Regions from separate parts of the Homo sapiens genome. Here all the other regions are reported to be linked to region 1. Evidence: microRNA targets listed by miRTarBase, many of them from high-throughput screens and not tested one by one. Region 1 holds a microRNA gene; each other region holds the end of a gene's coding sequence.

The links. Region 1 holds the annotated microRNA hsa-miR-4429 (AAAAGCUGGGCUGAGAGGCG, at 1,364-1,383, opposite strand). A microRNA usually pairs through its seed, bases 2 to 8, with sites in the 3' UTR of a target mRNA and lowers its output. Matches are read on the target gene's strand: a 7mer-m8 pairs with bases 2 to 8, a 7mer-A1 pairs with bases 2 to 7 and ends in A, and an 8mer does both.
Region 2: the mRNA of CTRC is a reported target of hsa-miR-4429. The part of its 3' UTR that is shown has no 7-base or 8-base seed match.
Region 3: the mRNA of ARL3 is a reported target of hsa-miR-4429. Seed matches in the 3' UTR shown: 7mer-m8 at 3,070-3,076 and 8mer at 2,454-2,461.

What each region holds. Positions count from the first base shown.
Region 1 is chr2:11,539,289-11,543,438 of GRCh38, forward strand. MIR4429 (microRNA 4429) reads right to left here and starts at 1,389; the gene lies at 1,317-1,389. The region is part of intron 1 of GREB1 (growth regulating estrogen receptor binding 1); the gene reads left to right.
Region 2 is chr1:15,446,308-15,450,307 of GRCh38, reverse strand. CTRC (chymotrypsin C) reads right to left here. Exons shown (of 8, transcript NM_007272.3): 8 at 1,066-3,733. The coding sequence ends at 3,719. Among named protein-coding and RNA genes, the nearest start is that of CELA2A, 8.4 kb to the left of the region's middle.
Region 3 is chr10:102,673,441-102,677,440 of GRCh38, forward strand. It overlaps ARL3 (ARF like GTPase 3), which reads right to left. Exons shown (of 6, transcript NM_004311.4): 6 at 291-3,501. The coding sequence ends at 3,454. Among named protein-coding and RNA genes, the nearest start is that of TRIM8, 31 kb to the left of the region's middle. RefSeq lists an enhancer at 365-914.

The DNA of each region.
Region 1 (4,150 bases):
AATCCTCCCATCTCGGCCTCCCACAGTGCTGGGATTACAGGTGTGAACCATTGTGCCCAGCCAATAGCTGGTGTTTTCTTGAAGATTTCCTGGGCCTCTCCAGGGGGTTTTTGTTGTTGGGGCATGTTCCATGGTATTCACAGCAGAGTTGTTTGAAGGGGCACGTGCTCGCTTATGTGGCTTAGGTCCACGCTACCTGTAGTCCTTCGGAGGCAAGCCAGGCTGCCAGCTGACTGTCTTCCACCACAAAGCCTGTGTTCTTCTCCTGACCCTTTGTTCTTTGCACAGCGTACTGTGGCTCCAGTCCAAGTACACAAACTTCCATGTAGTTTAAAAAGAATCAGTTTAACTGTTGGTGGTTAGACAGATTGGTATGTACCTGTGTGGAGAGCACTGTGACCCAGCAAAACACTTCAGGGCTAAGAAGACACGAAACGGTGGCATTTGCCATCTGACCCGGCAGGCGCTGGGGCAGATGAAGCTCCAGTTGGAAGGGCTACTGCTGAATTTTTTTTTTTTTTTTTTTTTTGGTTGTTGTTGTAGCTCTGGGAGCAGATACTAGCTCTGAAACTTTTCCCCTGGCTGGCTTGGCTGCCTCTCCCTGCCGGGCAGGGGCCAGGAAGCCTGGGTGTCAGGCAGACCCGAGCCAGGCTCTGCACAGCAGGGCATTACGCGCCCCACGCATCCTCTTCCATCCCCAGGCACAGATCAAAGGCGCAGCCCAGGAGGCGGGAGCCCCTGCACACTTTCCACCTCTGCTGGGCTTAGCCTCTTGGCTGGTTGGTCTGTGGAGTGCCTGAAGTGACCAGCTTTTTGTAAGGTACGGTTTATTTGACTTTGCAAGCGAGCACCTGCTTTGGGGGTTGGAGAGGTTTGTGTTGACTTACGAAGACAGCTGTGGCCTGTGTTCAGCAGAATAATGGCAAAGCATTGGCCCTTCTAATAAGGTGCAGGGGAGCAGTAAACCGAGACAAGTCCACTTAATGAACGGGTGTCCTTATTTTTATTGTTTGAAATGATATCCAAAGGGATTGCAGATAATTAGTTTGTGTTCTTATGAATGATAGGCTAAGGAGATTCAAAACACTGCTTGGGCCCTGCCTGGTTGGTTCCAGAGAGAAGGTTTTCAGTGGTTTCTGCTTCCCTGGCTTTATTCTGAAGGTCCTTCTCTTCCATTCAGTTCTTACTGCAATCGGAGGGGACATAGCTGATGGCTCTGTAGTTCCATTTGAGAGCACTTAAAGATATTCTCCAAAGAAACACTCTCTGACATTCTGTGCACAGATGTAGAGCAGCTCGGGGCTGAGCTGTGGCTGTGGGCCAGGCAGTCTGAGTTGGAGAGACAAACAAATTAGACACCAGTCGCCTCTCAGCCCAGCTTTTCTCCCTTCAGTAACACCTGTGGAGTTTATGAGTTCCTCTAGGGAAAATCGGAGAAATCTACATGAGAATGATGTCTTGTTTCCTGCTGGGAGGACCGTCAAAGAGTTTATAGGAGACCATCCTGCAGTCTCAATGCGTTTATTGCCGTGTCATATATTGGGGGCTGACTATTGCCACATTACTGGAGCACCCCATTCCCATCCTTCCTCAGCTGTTGAAAGTGAGACAGGTTGAGGACGCAGTCCGGAGAGTGTTGCTTTTTTCAAGTCTTGTTTTCTCAAACTTTGGACTCACCAGAAGTAAGTCACCATGCTTCTGTGTTGGCTGGGGAATTCTTCCAGTTAGAATTTAGTTGTAGGGAAGTTAGAAGAGGAGGGAGCATGGGTCAGTGATGTCTGGAATTTGGGGTGTTCTAGTGAGATTTGGGGTGGGGTCATGTCCCTGTGGCTGGCCAGGGTAGTGGCCCTGAAGGGCCAGGTTGGCAGGGCTTCTAGGAGAAGGCCATCTCCCAGAAGGAGATGGAACCCCAGGTGGGAGGGTATGTGGTGTGTTTTGGATGTGATTCAGAATGGAGGCAGTGAGGCAGAAAGGGAAGGGAAAGGGAGGCCGGGCAGGAAGCCAGGGTTGGGGTTTTGCTCTTATAGACTTGACTCCAGACCATGGCCCTTCCTTCTCTGCCATGGATCCTTCTGGAGGAGAGGGTATCACACCGCTTGAGGCTCTGTGCACAGGCGGGTTCTGTGGGCATCCGCGAGTGAGTGGATGGCAAGTGAGAGGGGGGCCATGGGGATCGGAACACTTGGCATCGTGACCTCTCAGCTCTCTCTTCAGACCCCCATGCACTACTCTTCTCTATGACAGTGAGACCACCACTGCCTCCGACTCTTTCCAAAGCCCGAGGTCAGCTAGGCTCCTCGTGCTACTCACCCTGCACAGAGGCAGTCTTTAGTCCTCTTTGAGTCTTGGTCTATTGCAGTATCCTCCTAGAAGCCTTCCTTAGGAAGCCGCAGGAATCTCAAACACAGCCTCATCAGCCCTGCCTAACTCCTTTGGTGGCTTGACGTGGTTAATTTCAAACACCTTAGCAGGGCTTAGGCTGAACGGGCCCCTCGTTGCCCTCCTACCCCCTGTCCCTGCATACACCTCATGCTGGAAGGACCTGTGTTGCCCAGGCACACAATAGGTGTCTCGCCCTTGGGTCAAGCCGATGCCTTGTATACGTTCTGCCTGGAAAGCCCCTTCTTTTCAGACAGCAAACCTGTACTCAACTTTGATGACTGAGCCTTCCATGAGGCCCGCCAAGACTGACCTGATAGAATTTTCCATTCCCTTCTCTGTTTCCCTCCAGGCCTTCTTGCCCCCATCTCTTCTATTTTGCATTACACTGCTGACCTGCACTTCCTGTGTCTCGGTGAGGTTCTTCAGGGCAGGAACTGTGTCTAGTTCAGTTTCACCCTTAGCAACAAGTGGTAATGAAATATTTCTGCCAAGGATCCAATTCAGATTATGTAAGCATTTACCTTTGTTTAAGGCAAAATCCTGATTCTGGAAGAGGAAAGTTCTTTGCTTCTCACAGGGCAGGCATAGAACAGGCCAGAAGCTGTCCATGTGTGGCTTGGGAGAGACCTGGCTATCTGTACTTGAGCCCTGAGACCCCGAAGGCCCCCGGCTGCATCTGCTCTTGGAGCTTGGGGTGGCCTGGGTGGTGGTCGAGTAGGATCTGCAGCGTGGGATCATCGGCAGAGTCAATGCCATTCCCTTGCAGATCCACTCTCCCGTAAGAAACTGTTCTGGGCTCTGAGAGGAACGAGGGGAAGAGGGGAGATGGGTGAGCTTCCTTGCTGCATTTAGCAACTCAGTCCCTGGGGGAGGTGTAGACACTGACACACTCCCTGTGGCCCCAGGGAGAACAAACCCAGAGCCCAGTGAGGGTGCAGTATGAGCAAAGTGCTGGGGCGGGGGGAGGGCAGAAGAGGGAGCAGTTGATTTTGGCTTAAGAGTAAACTGAAGAGAGAACAGACACGGGGCGGCTGAGCAGCAGTGTGTTCATGGAGAAAGAATCAAAGCGCACATCTTGTACTTTGATGCCCATAGGAAGGGCTCTCCTCTGGCCCCTCTGGCTTTGTTTGGAGCAGAAAACAACAAAGTGAGTTCAGGTAATACCTGGGGCAGTGGGAATTAGCTAATTAGTTTTCTGGAATTCTAACAGCGGTGGCATCCCAGGGGCCTAAATTAAAGCCGCAGATGTGTTTATTTGGTACACCTGGGGCTTTAAATGCTAATCCAAATGCTTTCAGACAGGACCTCAGTCTATTTCTTGACAATCCTCTCTGTAACCTTAAGCATGTGGTCTTCCTTTTCCTCGTCTACTGTCTCTTTTTAGGGGTTGTTTTCTGGGGACCTGCAGTGTTCCGGGCACCATGGGAAGTAAAGAGGTGACTGGAATAGTCCCTGCTGTCAAAGCCCTTCAAGTTTAGTTGGGAAGCTGGCAGAAGGGGGGATAAGAGACTAAATGATATATTATCTGCTCAGAGAGGCACGTTTCAATAGGTGTACTCCTAAGGAAGCCAGAAGTTTAATTAATTCCATTGGATAAACTACTCTGTGATAGTGAATAAAATTAAGGCAAGCTTAAGACTTAAAATTAAGTCTTTAGTTAACATCTAGAAATTAGAATTATGGGCAGTTAATTCCAATTTTAGAGAGGAAACTGGAACTTATTAACATCTATTTTATGCCAACTGCCCTGCATGTTAATTTAGTCCTC
Region 2 (4,000 bases), not on the chromosome of region 1:
CTCAGCCTCCCAAGTAGCTGCCACGACAGGTACATGCCACCACGCCTGGCTAATTTTTGTATTCTTTGTAGAGACAGGGTCTTGCTATGTTGCCCAGGCTGGTCTCGAACTCCTGGGCTCAAGCATCCTTCTGCCTCAGCCTTCCAAGTAGCTGGGACTACAGGTGTGTGCTACCATGCCTGGCTCCTGACAAACAATCGTTTTGATAATTAATCAGATTCCTGGAAGTTTGTGTAGATGTGGGGCTGGAGGCTTGCTGCTCAACGCTACAACTGTACCCCTTAAATAATTACTGAAACCTCCCTTTTCTCCTTTTCATTACCGCCTCCATCCGGGCTGCATTATTTCTGGCCTAGACTGCTGCAGCAGCCTCCTTACTGGCCTGTCTGCCTCCACTCTTGCCTGCTCCAAATCACCCTCCCCACAGCTGTCTGATGGACACTGTAGTGTACACATCGGACCACAGTGGCCACTTCTCTATCTAAAAGCCCTCTACAGCCCCCACTGCCCTCAGCAGGAAGTCCCAGCAGCCCCTACCACTGCACAAGGCCTTCCCTAAGGGCGTTTGCTTCCTCTCCAGCCTTGTCACTTGCCCCTCCAAGCAACAACCATCTTGGTTTGCCTGGGACTCTTCCAGTTTTAGCATTGAAACTCCCATGTCTGGGAAAACTCAGCCCAGGCAAACCAGGACAATTGGTCACTCTGCCCTTGCCCCTGACTTTATGCTCTGGCAACACCGGAGTTTCTTCCAAGCAGTCGCTATAGCTTTGCTCATGCTGTTCCCTTGGCTGGAAAGTGACCCCTTCTGTTCCCTAGTGAATTGATTAGCAAGTAACTGAAAATCTACTTCGGTGGCTAAAACAAATGCAGATGTATTTTTTTTCACGTAGCCAGACATTCAGAGGAAAATGGTGGCTGGCATGGGATCTACAGCTTGATGAGGTCTAAGCTGACATCTCTGTAATTATCTTGGCCACAAGATGGCTGCCTCAGCTCCAGGCATCACATCCATATTCAAGGCAGGAAGAAGGGGAAGGGGCAGCACCAGCTATGTCAGATCTTTCTCATCAGGGAAGTTTTTATTTATTTATTTTTTTTCTGGAGGATGTTTTACATTGCAGGGCAGCAGAGCATGGTGGACAAGAGCACAGGCCCTGGAGTCAGATCACTAAAGTCTGGATTCCGGCTCCACTACCTTCTAGTTCACACATTGGGAAGTCACTAACCCTGTCTGGCCTCAGTTTTCTCATCTGTAAAATGGGCATGATGTTAATAGTAACCTACCTCATGGGATTGTTTCTGGGGATTGAGATAATGTAAAACCTATAGGATAGTGCTTGGCACATACTAAGTGCCCAATAAATGTTAGATATTATTTAACATTGCTTAAATAACATTGTAATATTAATTAACATTTTAATTAGCTCCCTAACTACAAGGGATCTGAGGACAGCAAGCATTTAGCATTTATAACCCCCAATATAAAGACATACACAAAAGAAGATAGCTGGGAATGAGACCGGGTGTGGTGGCTCACACCTGTGATCCCAGTACTTTGGGAGGCCAAGGCGGGCAGATCACCTGAGGTCAGGAGTTTGAGACCAGCCTGGACGACATGGTGAAACCCCATCTCTACTAAAAAAATACAAAAAAATTAGCTGGGGCCGGGCACGGTGGCTCACGCCTGTAATGCCAGCACTTTGGGAGGCCGAGGCAGGTGGATCACGAGATCAGGAGATCGAGACCATCCTGGCTAACACGGTGAAACCCCGTCTCTGCTAAAAATACAAAAAAAAAAAAAATTAGCCAGGCATGGTGGCTGGCGCCTGTAGTCCCAGCTACTCAGGAGGCTGAGGCAGGAGAATGGCGTGAACCTGGGAGGCGGAGCTTGCAGTGAGCCGAGATGGCACCACTGCACTACAGCCCAGGTGAGAGAGCGAGACTCTGTCTAAAAAAAAAAAAAAAAAATTAGCTGTGCATGGTGGTGCGTGCCTGTAATCCCAGCTACTTGGGAGGCTGAGGCAGAAGAATCACTTGAACCTGGGAGGTGGAGGTTGCAGTGAGCTGAGATTGTGCCACTGCACTCCAGCCTGGGCATCAGAGCAAGACTCCGTCTCAAAAAAAAAAAAAAAAAAAAGAAGAGGATAGGTGGGAATGAAGTTTAGATTAAGCAAACTTAAGAAGGACTACGTTCTGTACTTGGGTACCTTCTAGTCAAATTTTAAGACCAAGCTTGGGCATCATCACCTCCAGGAAGCCATCCTGGATTCCTCCCGCCAACTGACACTGCTTCAGGTGTCCTGTTTCTATGCTTCTGGTCTGTATTTCTGTTTTCAAATGTATACCAGGGAATTTAATGATCTATTTACTGGTCTGTCTCCTGCACAGCTGGGGTACCCCCATCCTGGATTCCCGGGTCTGGGTGGTGCTGGGCTCCCTGTAGCTCCCACTGCTTGTTGAGTAAGTCAAGTCTTTCCTGAGACTTGCCTTGGCATCATGGGGGTGTGGGAGTCACACCATGGTCCCCACTCCCAGGGGACAAAGTCTGGTGGAGAAAAGGGACAACTCTTGGGCCAGTCTGAGGTAGCTGCAGCCGAGGGCTCTCCAGCGAGGGGTCCAGAGGCTGGGCTGGGGGCACCCCCACAGAACAGGACATTCCCAGGAGCAGGCCAGGCCAGAGGCCCCTATCATCAGGGTCTGATCCCCCTGGCATGTCCCTCCCTGGACATTGGATCTCTCTCATCTCTGGCTGCCCCTGTCATCAGGGTCTGATCCCACTGGCATGTCCCTCCCTGGACACTGGGTCTATCTCATCTCTGGCTCCTCTTGGCCTCTTGTCAGCCTCAGGAGAACTCTCTTCTCCTGGATCAGGCATTGCCAGCTATCCCAACTCCTTCCTCTCTCTGGGCCTCAGTTTCCCCACTTGTCTAATGCAATGAAAGCATATCCAGCTCTGACCACTGTGATTCTGTGTGGAAACCATTGCCTTCTTCAAACGTATGTCTCCTGAGGATGATGCTGGGGTCTCTTCCTCTTCCTGTACCCTCATCATGCCCAGCACAGGACTGGACACAGGGGCTGGCTCACTAAACACTTCTCAAAGCAGAGAGCCCCTGCCAACAGCAGCCATGGGGTCTGTGCTGCGGGGTGGGGGTGGGGGGTCCCTGCTAGGGAGCCCCTTCCCCAGGAGTGGTTGTCCCTGAGCTTTGGCCATCCTCCTGTGGCCTGGTCTCTCTGGCCTGGGGGACGCTGCTTTTGGGGAGACCCTGTCTTCCACCTGCTGCTGGGGGGCTGTGAGGACCTGCCAGGCCCCTCGGTGGAGGTAGGATCGGAGAAGCGAGTGATTTCATCAGGGTCTCACCTGTTCGCAGCTTGTGAGATGGAGCGGGGAAGGTGTCTGATGCGTCCTTCACTCCCATCCCCTCCGGCTTCACGCAGGACTCCCTGGGCTCTCCACCCCAGCCCCCTGCCTCCCATTAATGCCCCAGGAGGCTCCTTCCTTGGCCCTCTCTCCCGGCCTCTGTTTCCCCACCTGTCTAATGCAGGGTGGGGGAAACTGGCTGAGTGGGGTCTCTCTTTGGCTCCATAGTGTGGAAAGGGGCAGCACCAGAGAGGAGGGAAGCAACAGAAGCTGCACAAATCAAGGATCCAGGTGGCCCGAGGAGAAGGAAGTTTATTGCTGTTGCAGGGACTCGCTGCCGCCGCTCCCAGCAACAAATCACAGCTGCATTTTCTGGAGGAGCAGAGAACAGTGTGAGAGACTCAGGGCTGTGCCACCTTCTAGGGTGGCACAGGGCTCTGCCCGGAGGGTGGGTCCATGGGGGCATGGCCAGCAGCCCCCGGCCTTCACATGCCAGCCTTGTCCCTGTTCAAGGGGTCTGAGGCCCTCAGCATTTCAGGCCACTGTGCAAATGGGTCTTGGAACACACTCTGTCCCCAATGGGGAAGCCCCCAGCCCAGGGTGACCCTCTGTTCCCCTACTCTCAAGATGAGAAATGGC
Region 3 (4,000 bases), not on the chromosome of region 1:
GCCCCACCTGCACTTAAAGGCTCTGTGATTTCAGGCAAATTCCTTAACTGGGGCAAATGTCTCAATGTCCTCTGCTGCAAAGGGGGACTAATGCTCACCACGATGTATCTGAAGTGCCCGGCACGTAGGAGGGGCTTAATGAAGGGCTATTATTGCTATTGTTGGTATCCTATTTTATATATATATCCTTCTGGAAAAAACCTCTTGAAGAAAGCTAACCCCTGAAAGGACAAACACATTTCAGGCCCTCTCTGAGCTTCAGCAAAGAACACAACACATTCCAGGCTGCCTTCGTTCCAGCTAAATTTTATTTGTCGGATTTTTGACAGACGTCTAAATTATACATTGAGTTTTCCACATGACCAAACACCACATCTCTTCCTTTGATTATCATTTTCAAAAGGGATTATAAAAAAAGAACCTTTTGATGGATCAGACTGAACCCTGAAACCACATGGAGTGCAGAGCTAAAAATAAAAGGAAGTAAGAACTGGTCCCCGAGAAGGAAAGGAAAGGGAAATCAAAGCAAACTCTGACGGGAATGGAGAGACGAGTCCTGGTGAGGGTGACATGGTGTCACCCTCCAGGCCAGGCCGGATAAGGAGCGGCCAACAGTGAGGGTGGGGCGCAGAGTGGCACAAAAATAGCCACTACTTTAGTCCAGAGGGGAATAAAGAAATTTGTCAAAAGCAAGGAGAGAGAAGTGGAGACGGAGGGAGGGAGGAAGGAAGGGGGCAGGACCATGTCCTCCCAGCAGCCGTGGGAGCTGCGGACTCCTTTAACCCTGGCACATTTCTAACCGCCGGCATAATCGCTGACTTTCAGCTGTGCACCGACATGTTCCCCAGCTCAGCCCACATCAATGACACCCTTGTTTCCATAGTAACCAAGGGAGAGTGAAGGGGAAAGGGTGTGTTGCACTGGGTGCAGGGAATCCAGCCAAAAGCAGCCACACGGGGTAGGTCGGGAGGAGGGGAGGACTCGAGTTTTTCCCACAACTGGCTTGAGCACATATCACGAGCACCCCCCAGGCCTTGCCTGCCCTCCGGCCCCCAGCCCTCTCCCCCGCACATTCAGATGCAATTGTGCGCAGGGCAAAAGTCTCGCTAAGACTCACTGGGGACAGGAGGAGGGGAAAAGGGGTCTTCCCTTTCCAGCTTCAAATTCTGTCTTCTGGTCAGGGGGCAGGAGTGGGCAGGGAAGAGGCAAGAGGGCTTTAAAAAGTATTTTGTTTTTAAATGGGAGCTTTCAAACTCTGCCTTTTTCAGGCTTCTCTCATCTACCCCAGAGCCCCAGGAGGGTTCAAAAGGGCTCAAAGGGAAGATGAAAGCGTGTGACATCTGCAGTGTCTCTGTGTCTCTGCAGCTGAGAGCAAATCAGAACATTTACAGAGGCCGTTATCAGAGGAGTGGCTTCTGCCTGCTAGGAGAGGCCTTGGGATGGCTCTTTAAAACAGTCCCCTAAGTTGGTGGTAAAAGAACAAAAATATTTTACAGACCCTCCAATGCCAAAGTTCCATACTGCAGTGTTCCAAAATTGCAGACCTCCAAGCAGGCATTTTGCCCCTCAGATAACTTGTCCCTGCTGAACTATTCGGAAGAAAAAACAATTTGCAAGTGCTAGAGCCACATTTGCAGCCTGGTAGAAGGGGGATTTCTGATTCCTTATAATTCTGTGTTGCCTCTGTAAGGGAGAGCTTGGGTGAGCCAGAGAAGCCAGTGGAGGAGGCTGCAGAGAGCAGCTAGCTCTGAGGTTAAAAAAACCCCTCACTTTCTTTTGTTTTGCAAGTCCTTACAGGTCTGTCCACAGCAACTCTGGGGCACCTTTTCACGGCTGGCTTTGTTAATGACTTTCATGTCAGATCGCTTTTGAAGCTGGCTATGCCTCAGTCTCTGCTGCACTCTTAGCCAGAAGCAGCTGGGTATTGAGGGCCAGGGGCTGCAGCGGCCCCTTCAGTCTGCTCACACGCCCTGATGGGCTTGGGAAGGGCCACCTCCCAGGATGAGAAGGCAGCTGGCCCCCAGGGACCCACCAGTCACTGGACAGTCTCTTATTCATTCTCTGAAAACCCCTGAGCTCAGGCACCAGAACAGAGTTTAATTCAGGAGCCGGGCAATGCTCTGGCCTGTTTCCCCATGTTTGAAGCTGAGGATTTCTGAGGTTCAGGGAAACAAGCTCGTTTTGCAACGAGGGGCAGGAGAAATGTTCTGCTATTCCTCTCCAATCAATCAACAGAGGACGGACATTCTGCTGCAGAGAGGCAGAGGAGCCCAGCAGCTGGGGTGACTCTTGATTCCTTGGACACGACCCCTGCAGTCACACACACACCCATGTCCTCCCCAGCAGCAAACCCTCTCCATCCAGGAGCATCCCACACCACCAAGTTGCCAGCACTGTAAAAATTGATCTAAAAATCGATCTGCCTGGCTTTTCTCAGTGGAGCAGGTTCATGGTAAAGCTGCATTTATTTCTAAAATCTGATAGCAGCGGCCTATTGTGATCGTTTAAACACAGAATTCTTTGAGCTTTAGAAATCCTGTCTATAGGACGGCCGTGGAGAAGCCAGCTAATCTCAGAGTCGGCTGCTCACTGCTCCACTGAGCTGGAGAAAGCCTGTTTACGCTAGCCTGAGCCCTCGATGTGAGAGCTTTTTAAGGACCTTGTAATTTTTCTGGAATTAAACCTCCCACCTCTCCTTACATTCCAGATGTCATTACAGTCAAAAGTCATAAGAATTTGCTTCTCTGTGTGGCTGGCTGGGGCAGAGGCAGGGGTGGGTGGGATGGGGTATGTTTCTGTAGTGACTTGTCTGCAAGAAAGACTTTTTTTTTTTTTTCTGTCCAAAGAGTGAGGATTACATACGTAGTCTCCGACCTGCAAGACGATGAGATGGTTTAATTATCTGCCTTTTCTCCCCCCACCCCCACCCAGCAGCTTCCTGTCGGACAGACTGAAGCCTGGCTGGGCTAGTGACGGTAAAAATCACTGACAGCACCAGCAAACACTGTCTGTGGTTTCAAAACCATGGAGGGAATGCAAGGGACGGGTCAGTAAATAAATGAACTCAGCAAAGCTGCTTCTTCCTCTTTTTCTTTTTCTTTTTTTTTTTTTGAGAGGAAAAAAAAGCCCACTGGAATTGTCTAAACTGCAATGCAATCTCTTGCTCATTTAAAAGATCTCATTTTCTAATCATGTGCTTTGAGACATTTAATACTATTTCAATTATGCAGAGGAAATAATATAATTCCTTTATTTGAAAAATGATACTGAACCTCAGAGATCAGTTAAATCTACTGCTGGAATGGGGATTCTTTCTAAACCGTGTTGTTCCCTCTCTTCAAACAGCTGGAGCTGTACACAGATGGAAAAACATTTGGTCAGAAAGCAGCAAATTAGTGTTTTTCAGGACCGAATTCGGCTCCCGCAGCTCCTGCATCTCCATTCGTCTAGATTTTATTTCTTCTTTGCATTGACATTTTTGCAGACCCAGTTCATGCCATCCTTTGAGGGAAATGGGCAGAGAAAGGCAGTGTTAGTTATAAGAAAAGCACCACACACTCTAGCCTGGAGGGGCGGGCAGTGGGGGTCCCAGGCCCTCCCTCCCAGACCGCCAGCTTTAGGGAGTTTGCTTGGCTCAGGGGCCCACCTGGGTGACCAGGGACAGTGACCTCCCAGGAGGAGGAGGAGGGAGGTCTCTGAGAGCACAAGAGGGCGATGGGAGGGGGATGCCCAGCGCCTGAACTTGAGATGGGTCCTCAGGAACTCCCTCTGAAAAAATAAACACATCTGCCTGCATCCAAAGCCTGACTGAAGAGCTATCAGGAAAGATTCCAGCCATTTTTGGCTTTTTCTAAAAGGTGACCTTTGCCAGGGCATTAAATTCAATAAGCCACCCTTTTGGTGCCCCATGTGTTTACAGTGTGACAGTGTACACTTGGGTTAAATTAAATTTCTTTTTGGAAAAACAAACCTACTGCAGTGAGTGTTGCGAGGCACACAC